Linked DNA regions of Homo sapiens. The protein of the gene in region 1 interacts with the protein of each later gene in a biochemical or structural test. Each region holds a gene or a part of one and is shown on either strand. Other genes may lie near its edges.

Region 1 (3,752 bases):
AATGTGCACTCTACGACTTCAGACATTTTTGCCACATTCACTGTTACATTCCCTGGGCCTACAGCATGTCTGGCAAATTAAATGAGAACTCAGTAAATATTTGTTGAAGACTGACATACAAATCAAGGCCCTCAAGATCACTGGACAAAAAGAGGCTGCTGAAGTCCAAAATGAAGCATAAGCACAATAATGCCCAGTAAATTTGGGGTAAAGGAATGAAAAACCCAAAACATCAATTAACGGGCAGATGAACCCTTCATTTATCTATGGCATGCTACTGAGAATCCATTAATTCATGCTTTGGAACAGCATCTGTGCATACTCTGGAGGGCCATTCTTGAGGTTCTGTGGCTATGGTAAAGGGTAATACCATTAACAAGTGTCTTCTCTCCAGAACCAATGAACTTATGTGGAATATTCTGCTGAAGAAAAAAAGCAACCGCGGTCTCAACCAGAAGGCCCAGAATATTCAATTACTCCACTGAGAAGACCTGGAAACAGCCCCAGCCTCAGAACTAGGCAACTGGGTCAAAGTCAGGTTTTGGAATAAACTACTAGAGGGACATTGAGTATATAAATGTACATTTCTAATCCTGTTTTGTAACTGGAAACCAGGAATAATCAGATCTTCCCTTCACATGCTCATCATAAGATAAAATAAGATGATGTGTAGACAAAGGCATGCTGAAAATTGAGTGGACTATAGTTATCTGTGATCATCATCTTGTACTGGCTGGGATCTAATTCACTTTCTCTTCACTGCCACTGGTGAGCTTTGTCAACAAAGATTTCATCACACCCCTTTATGACTTAAAAACTTCCAGTGGCTCAAACTTCTTCACAGGCTGAACCCCAACCACCTTTCTGGTCACACTTCTGCCATGTGGAACTACACTTCATCCCCTAACCTAATCATGCTTTATTGTCTGTGCTGGGCAATTTCCTAAAGCCCCACTCGCAGGCCCCCTCATCCTCCCTTCTTCCATTATAGAAATCCTAGGCACTTTCAAAGGTCTTCTCATTCCCCAACCTGAATGAGATGTTTCCTCCTGTACACCCTCTCTCTCAGGCATCCTGTTGAATCACTGCTTGTTTGCAAGGCCATTTTCGCACCAGATCAGTGATTCTCCATCTGATCTCTTTGTGTGTCTTCAGCACATAACAGTGTAAGACACGTGGTAGACACCCAATGTCTGCTCTTTTTGAATACACCTCAATTCTCTCTCGGGCCTTTCTACCTCTAACTCTCTATGACTTATGACTCGAAGTCAGTATTATGAAAGGCCTTTTCTTGCTTTTCCACCCTTCTGGAAATATACTGGAAGATGAAGCTAATTGACCACTCCTAGGGTTCTTCTAGAAACAGGCTGGGACTCAAAAGAGGGACAGAATAAGGTTACAGACTTCTTTCTGGTCCACATAATTTATGCCTTTAAAGTATGCTTTGTTTTATTTGAATTGCTATACATTCTCAAGTGAGACACGCCCATATTTAAGTCTGGTACAAATGGAAAATATTTTCAAAGTATTCATTTTCGGAATTATTCAAGTTTCTTCTCCTTTTCACAATGGTGGAAACTCCTAAATTGACTATAATTCGAAGCAATTATTGTTCTTTAGCTATCAAGGTGCCGTTAGTCTCTTCATAAATATCCTGGATGATCTGAGCCTGGTTCAATGCAAAGCCTATTTTTTTTTCAGCCCTGTGCCTTTTCACTTGCTAAATTTATAACATTCAAATGAAAGAAAGGAAGCCCACTTTTGCCCCCACTGCTCACATGATATATGCTGAGTTTTAATTGCCCTTGTAATTCTACCCTCAGCCAGGTCTGCACAGGTATGATGTGGAAATAAAACATTATGGCAAAGCCTGAGAAGGGCTTGCTGAGGTAGGAAGAAGAGGGCTTTGTAATATTTCCTGCAACCAGGAAAAGGAAAGAGAAAAATGAAAGGTGGTCTGGGAATTTGATAAGCTAGCCAGACAATTCATTAAGGAAGCATTTTCTGTCTATGACCACCTCTAAGACTACGTGAGCTATAAAGGCTAGGGATCCCCTGATGGTTTGATATTCAGCTGAGGCTGGCTGAAAATGGAAGAATGTGGATCACTTGGCTGTGAATTAAGAAATACACGCAGCAACAGAGGGAAACACACTATGGCATTTTCTAAATATTTACCAAGGGGAGTTGGCAATCCGTGAGCAGAGCCAGATCTGACAGTTAATTCTCCTGACTGCCTCCTACGCTCTTCCTCAATCACTATCTCCATCTCCAAAACAGGTGACCTTCCCCTAATGGGGTGAAGAAGGAAGCATCTCTGTGATAAACCCAGCAAATGCCACATGATGATTCTGGCACACAGACCACTGCATCTACTCTTCTTCCTCAGATTTCTTATCTAAAACAGAGGAGTAACCTACGATCTGTCTGTTAAAATCAACTGAGTCAATACAAGCTGCTTCAAAGATAAAATTCTTCTTTCCACAGTCATTTTTGGCTTGTGATATCCATATGGTTTCAGAACCCAGTATCCATGAACTTCCTTGCCAGTCCTCATTATATAATCAAATTTCTCATCAGCCCACATAGCACAGTTATTTTCACTCTTGATCTTCCCAAGTTCATTGATAAATGTTAATCTGTAGGTCTCAGGTTATTTTTTTAAATTCTATAATTTTAAAATTCCATAACAAAGAAACATATTTTAAATCACTTTTTAATTAATTCATGAATTAGAGATGGCACCTCATTCTGTTGTCCAGGCTGGAGTACAGTGGCACAATCATAGTTCAGCCTCTCTAACTCCCTGGCTCAAGCAATCCTCCTCCCTTAGCCTCCGAAGTAACTGGGATTATAGGCATAAGCCACTATACCTGGCTTTTTTATATCAATTTTTTGTTTGTTTGTTTGAGACACAATCTCACTTTATTGTCCAGGCTGGAGTGCAGTGGCGCGATGTCGGTTCACTGCAACCTCTACCGCCCAGGTTCGAGCAATTTTCCTGTCTCAGCCTCCCGAGTAGCTGGGATTACAGGTGCCCACCACCACACCTGGCTAATTTTTGTATTTTTAGTAGAGATAGGTTTGGCCAGGCTGGTCTCGAACTCCTGAGACCAGCCTGACCAGCATGGTGAAACCCCATCTCTACTTTAAATCTCCCACTGGTCATGTTTCCTACCTTTTCAGGTCTTGAGCAGACAGTAAAATTTTGTGTTTGATTTTGAAATTAAAGTGCTGCTCTTCAAGAACAATTTGGTGATTGGGTTTAGGTTAAAACACGTATCTGACGGTCTCAACAGTTCTCTAAAGTCCTTCCCCATGCCCCCCAAAAATGGACATAATTACTTAAGATTTCTTGTCTCTAGATCGTAATGTGTATAACTATTGTTTTAAAATGTATACATGTGTACACCTTACAAGCAATGGGGGAGATTATAGAACAGTTTAGAGTTTAAAGCCTGAGACTGCCTTCTCTCCTGCTTATCCTCAGTACCTTTTCTTTAAGATTGCACTAAAATGAAAGGACTAGATATTAAAAACACATCCTCTCATAATCTCCTCCAAAGGAAATAAAATCTCAGTAGTTTGGTTAGGCAGAACTTCAGGAAGTAAACCATATTGGCCTTGAGAGTGAGACAGGAAAGAAATGAACTCGAGTAATAAGAAGTGTGGGTGCCATAGCTACACATCAATGATCAGGTACATTCAGTTAGGTCTTGCCTTTAAGCCAGTAAGTATGCACATGGAAGGCT
Region 2 (3,752 bases), on another chromosome or scaffold:
TGTACACATTGACTACTAGGCCTAAAGTGACTTAGTTGTTTTGCAAGCTAATGGTAAATAAAGCTCGCGCTGCTGCCTAAACGCTTTGGAAAACTTCCTCATGGCAATTCAGCACTGTGCTTCACATCAGCCGCAGAAAGGTGTTTTGGGGTTTTTTTTTTTTGTTTTATAACGCCCACTTCCTTTAACAAGTGAAACAAGTAAAAAATAAACAAATGAAAGAAAAGGGGAGACAGGAAGAAGGGGGGAAAGAAGACAAGGAGGGCAGGAAAGAAGAGGAGAGACGCACTCCCATGCTCAGAGCCCCATGGCCACACAGGGTCCCTGCCCAGGTGACGCGGCCGCTCAGGAGCACGGAGGCTTCTCACCAACTGCGTCAGGAAAACACCAGGACCACCTGGGGAAGATAAAACTTTTTTTCTTTAAATAAATCTATAAAGTAAAACACTGTTACAAGGGGAAAAGAAAGCCCCACTTTATGTATTTGGTTGCCCATGGTTTTAGGAGCATCTAATCTAATTTCAACTGAACTCCTAATGAACTAGTCATGCACAGATGAGTCTGCTTCAGCCCCTGTCTCCTCCATTCCAGGGGCTTCTGGAAATGGGCCTCTTCTACATACAGTTTAAAGCAGAGCTGGGTGGACTGTTAGAGGTAGGTTACAGGAGGAATAAAGACCCATCTTCAGAGGAGGTCTCAGCACCACGACATGGGAGCACCTCTCAGGACAAACGATAACTTGAGCGGCATTAACGCTGAAACGAAGCACCCCTTGCAGCGTCTGTCGCTGGTGCCTGCAGATGGCCTGCGCTGCACTTGGGTCATGCCGCACCCAACAGGAGTCAGAAGGTGACTCGCCACTATGGCCGTCTACTCACATGCAACAGTCCATGCAGAGGGCAGCTGGGGGTGTGCATTCGGAGGCTTTGGGATAGAAAGCAGGGGAATAACACTAAGGGCAGGGGACAAGAGTCAGCAGAGAACACGCCAGGGAGCCACAAGGGAAAACTGCTTAAGAAAACACTGAAGACTTAAGAAACTTTAGTGACTTGAAACCACTGGAGTTCACAACACTAAAATACAGGTTTAGGACTGAAGTGTCTTTTTGTGCATGAAGTATTAAGAGTCCCTGAATATAATTTGAATTAAATAAGAAGAGCTCCTATTTGTAGGTTAATACATGTAAATTATTGTATATTTTTGCTATATACGGAGATATACTGGAACTACTGCGGAGTTACATTACATCTTAAGCAGTTTCAAGCAGATAGTATTATCCGAATTTTAGTAATGCATTCAGTGGACTTAGGTTCAGACTACAAGAAAGTGAATAAGGAAGGTTCGCTTTACACCTGGGTCAGAAAGGCTGGATTCCCAAAGCCTCCGAAGCCCCAGCTACCCAACTTGCTCTACGTCATCTAACTATGAACAGTAAGGTAGGCACAGACCAAGCAGTTGGTAATACAGCTTGGCACGCAGACACCGGACGAGAGAGACTGCAGCAAGGGTTTCACGTGATCGTGTGTAATGTTCGTCCACACCTTAGTCTTCGACTTGGGACTGCTTCCATTCTGCCCTTCCTCGGAAGCTTCGTCGCCCCGGCCAGAGTTCAGCCATCTTGTCTTCTCCCGCTGCTGCTTCTGAAAACTGTGTCTGAGTGGGGAGCAAGTGCCCGAATCACCGTCACTAGCAAAGGAGTAACCTGTGACACTAGCAGGAACCTCCACATCGCTGTATTTTTTAGACTTCTCTCTCAGAGCAGGGTATCGATAAGGGTAGCCAGTTCTGTAGCCCTAGGGTCCAAGGAGAGTGAAAGACAGTCAATATTCCAGATCTCAAAACAGGGTTTCACTTTGGAAAATCATGTGGAAACATCCACAAAAGTTGAACACATGCATACCCTATGACTCAGTAATTCCACTCCTAATTTTACACCCCACAGAAGCAAATGTGTTCACCAAAAACCAGGTACTAAAATGTGGACAGCAACCCTACTCCTCGTAAACCACAATTGGAAACAACCCAAAAGTCCATCCATATAGGAGATGGATAGTCTAGTGTCTTCATAAGAAGGCTTATAGTGACACAATGTGCTCTAAACCAACCACGTGGATGACTCTCCTGAAGGCAACGCTGAGTGAAAGAGACCAACCTGCAAAGAACATACACCATGTAATACCATTCATTAAAAGTGCAGAAGATGCAAAACAACCTTTGTTTTGGTTGTCCTGGGAGACAGGACAGTTGTCACCCCTGGGATGGGACAAGTGAACTGAAGGAGGTGCTGGGGGTGTTCTGAGGTGCTGCTACCGTTGCTCTTATTGACTGCTGGTTATACAGGGGGTTCAGTTTTTAAAAATGAACAAACTGAACACTTGCGGTAGGTGCACTCTCCTGCTTACATATTTCAACAAAAAATTAAAGTTGAACACCCAAACAGGGTTTACTTGCTGCCAGCCACTGTGCAGGTTATATTCATCAACATACTTAATAGACTTTTACCTCTTAAGTTACAGTTTAAATACTGTGATAATCTTTAGGTAAGTAAGGTAAGTAAGTATACCTCATGACAACTGGTTCTCAGCAAAATTACTTTACGTCTGAATACAACAACATTCAAATTCACCTCCAGCTCTGCCTCATGACCATGTGCTCTGTGGTAAAAGACAGCCCCACTTACTTCATGCCTCTACTGGACCAACTCATCTGCAGAGTCCTCCCACAGACAGCATCTCTAAGGGCATGGACGGTGTCCTCTGCATCTCTCCTGGCCACACTTGGTAAGTGTGACAGACAGACTTCACAGTGGCCCCAGGCCCCCAGCTCCTGTAATCCCCTCCCACCTTGAGCACAGGTGAGATCTCTGACTTGCTTCTAAGTAGCGGAATTCACAAAAGGTGATGATGGGCTGTATCACAGAAGAGTTTAGCACCTATCTTATAAGAGTCTCTGTCTCTACTGCTGGCTCTGAAGAAGTAAAGCTGCCAAGAATGCTTCAGCCCTAAGAAAAGGAATTCTGTCCCCAGTCTAGAAGAGCCTGGATGTGGATCCTCTGAGTCAAGTCTCCTGATGAGAACCCAGCCCTAGCCAACACCCTGAATGCAGCCTTTATGAGACCCTAGGTTGAGTTCGCTGTGCCTGGACTCCTGCCCCACAGAAGCTAGGAAATAAATGGCTGCTGTTCGAAGCCACCAGGCCTGTAGTGATTTGTTGCCCAGCACAGAGAGGTAATACGGGGGATGCTGAAGAGCTGTCTGCTCAACAACCTAACAGATTCGCACCTGAACCAAGTCACTCACAGCACCTTCACAATACATCACAAGAGAATCAGGACTTGGAGGGACTGCACAGGGTCAGACATACAAGACACTTCAGTGGCCTGTGCCCTGCTGGCTGTGGTACTCTAGAAACAGTCCTCTCAATTCAGAATTCTCTCTCCCCTCTGGGTACTGCTCTTTTTTGGGGGCCATCTTCATTACTAATCACTCTTTCAATATTTTTTTTATTTTTTTAATTTAATTTTTTTTTTTTGAGACAGAGTCTCACTCCATTGCCCAGGCTGGAGTGCAGTGGCGCCATCTTGGCTCACTGCAACCTCCGCCTCCCAGGTTCACACTATTCTCCTGCCTCAGCCTCCTGAATAGCTGGGACCACAGGCACGTGCCACCACACCCGGCTAATTTTTTGCATTTTTAGTAGAGACGGAGTTTCACTGTATTAGCCAGGACGGTCTCAATCTCCTGACCTCATGA

The links. The genes of interacting proteins can lie anywhere in the genome.
Region 2: the proteins of SPTB (region 1) and ADD1 form a complex in vitro, tested with the Homo sapiens proteins (one study listed by BioGRID).

Annotation. Positions count from the first base shown.
Region 1 is NC_000014.9:64,873,251-64,877,002, forward strand, and holds part of SPTB (spectrin beta chain, erythrocytic), read right to left. Parts: intron 1-3,752.
Region 2 is NC_000004.12:2,902,805-2,906,556, reverse strand, and holds part of ADD1 (alpha-adducin), read right to left. Parts: intron 1,794-3,752; coding exon 1,449-1,793; intron 1-1,448. UniProt on the Homo sapiens protein: Membrane-cytoskeleton-associated protein that promotes the assembly of the spectrin-actin network. Binds to calmodulin.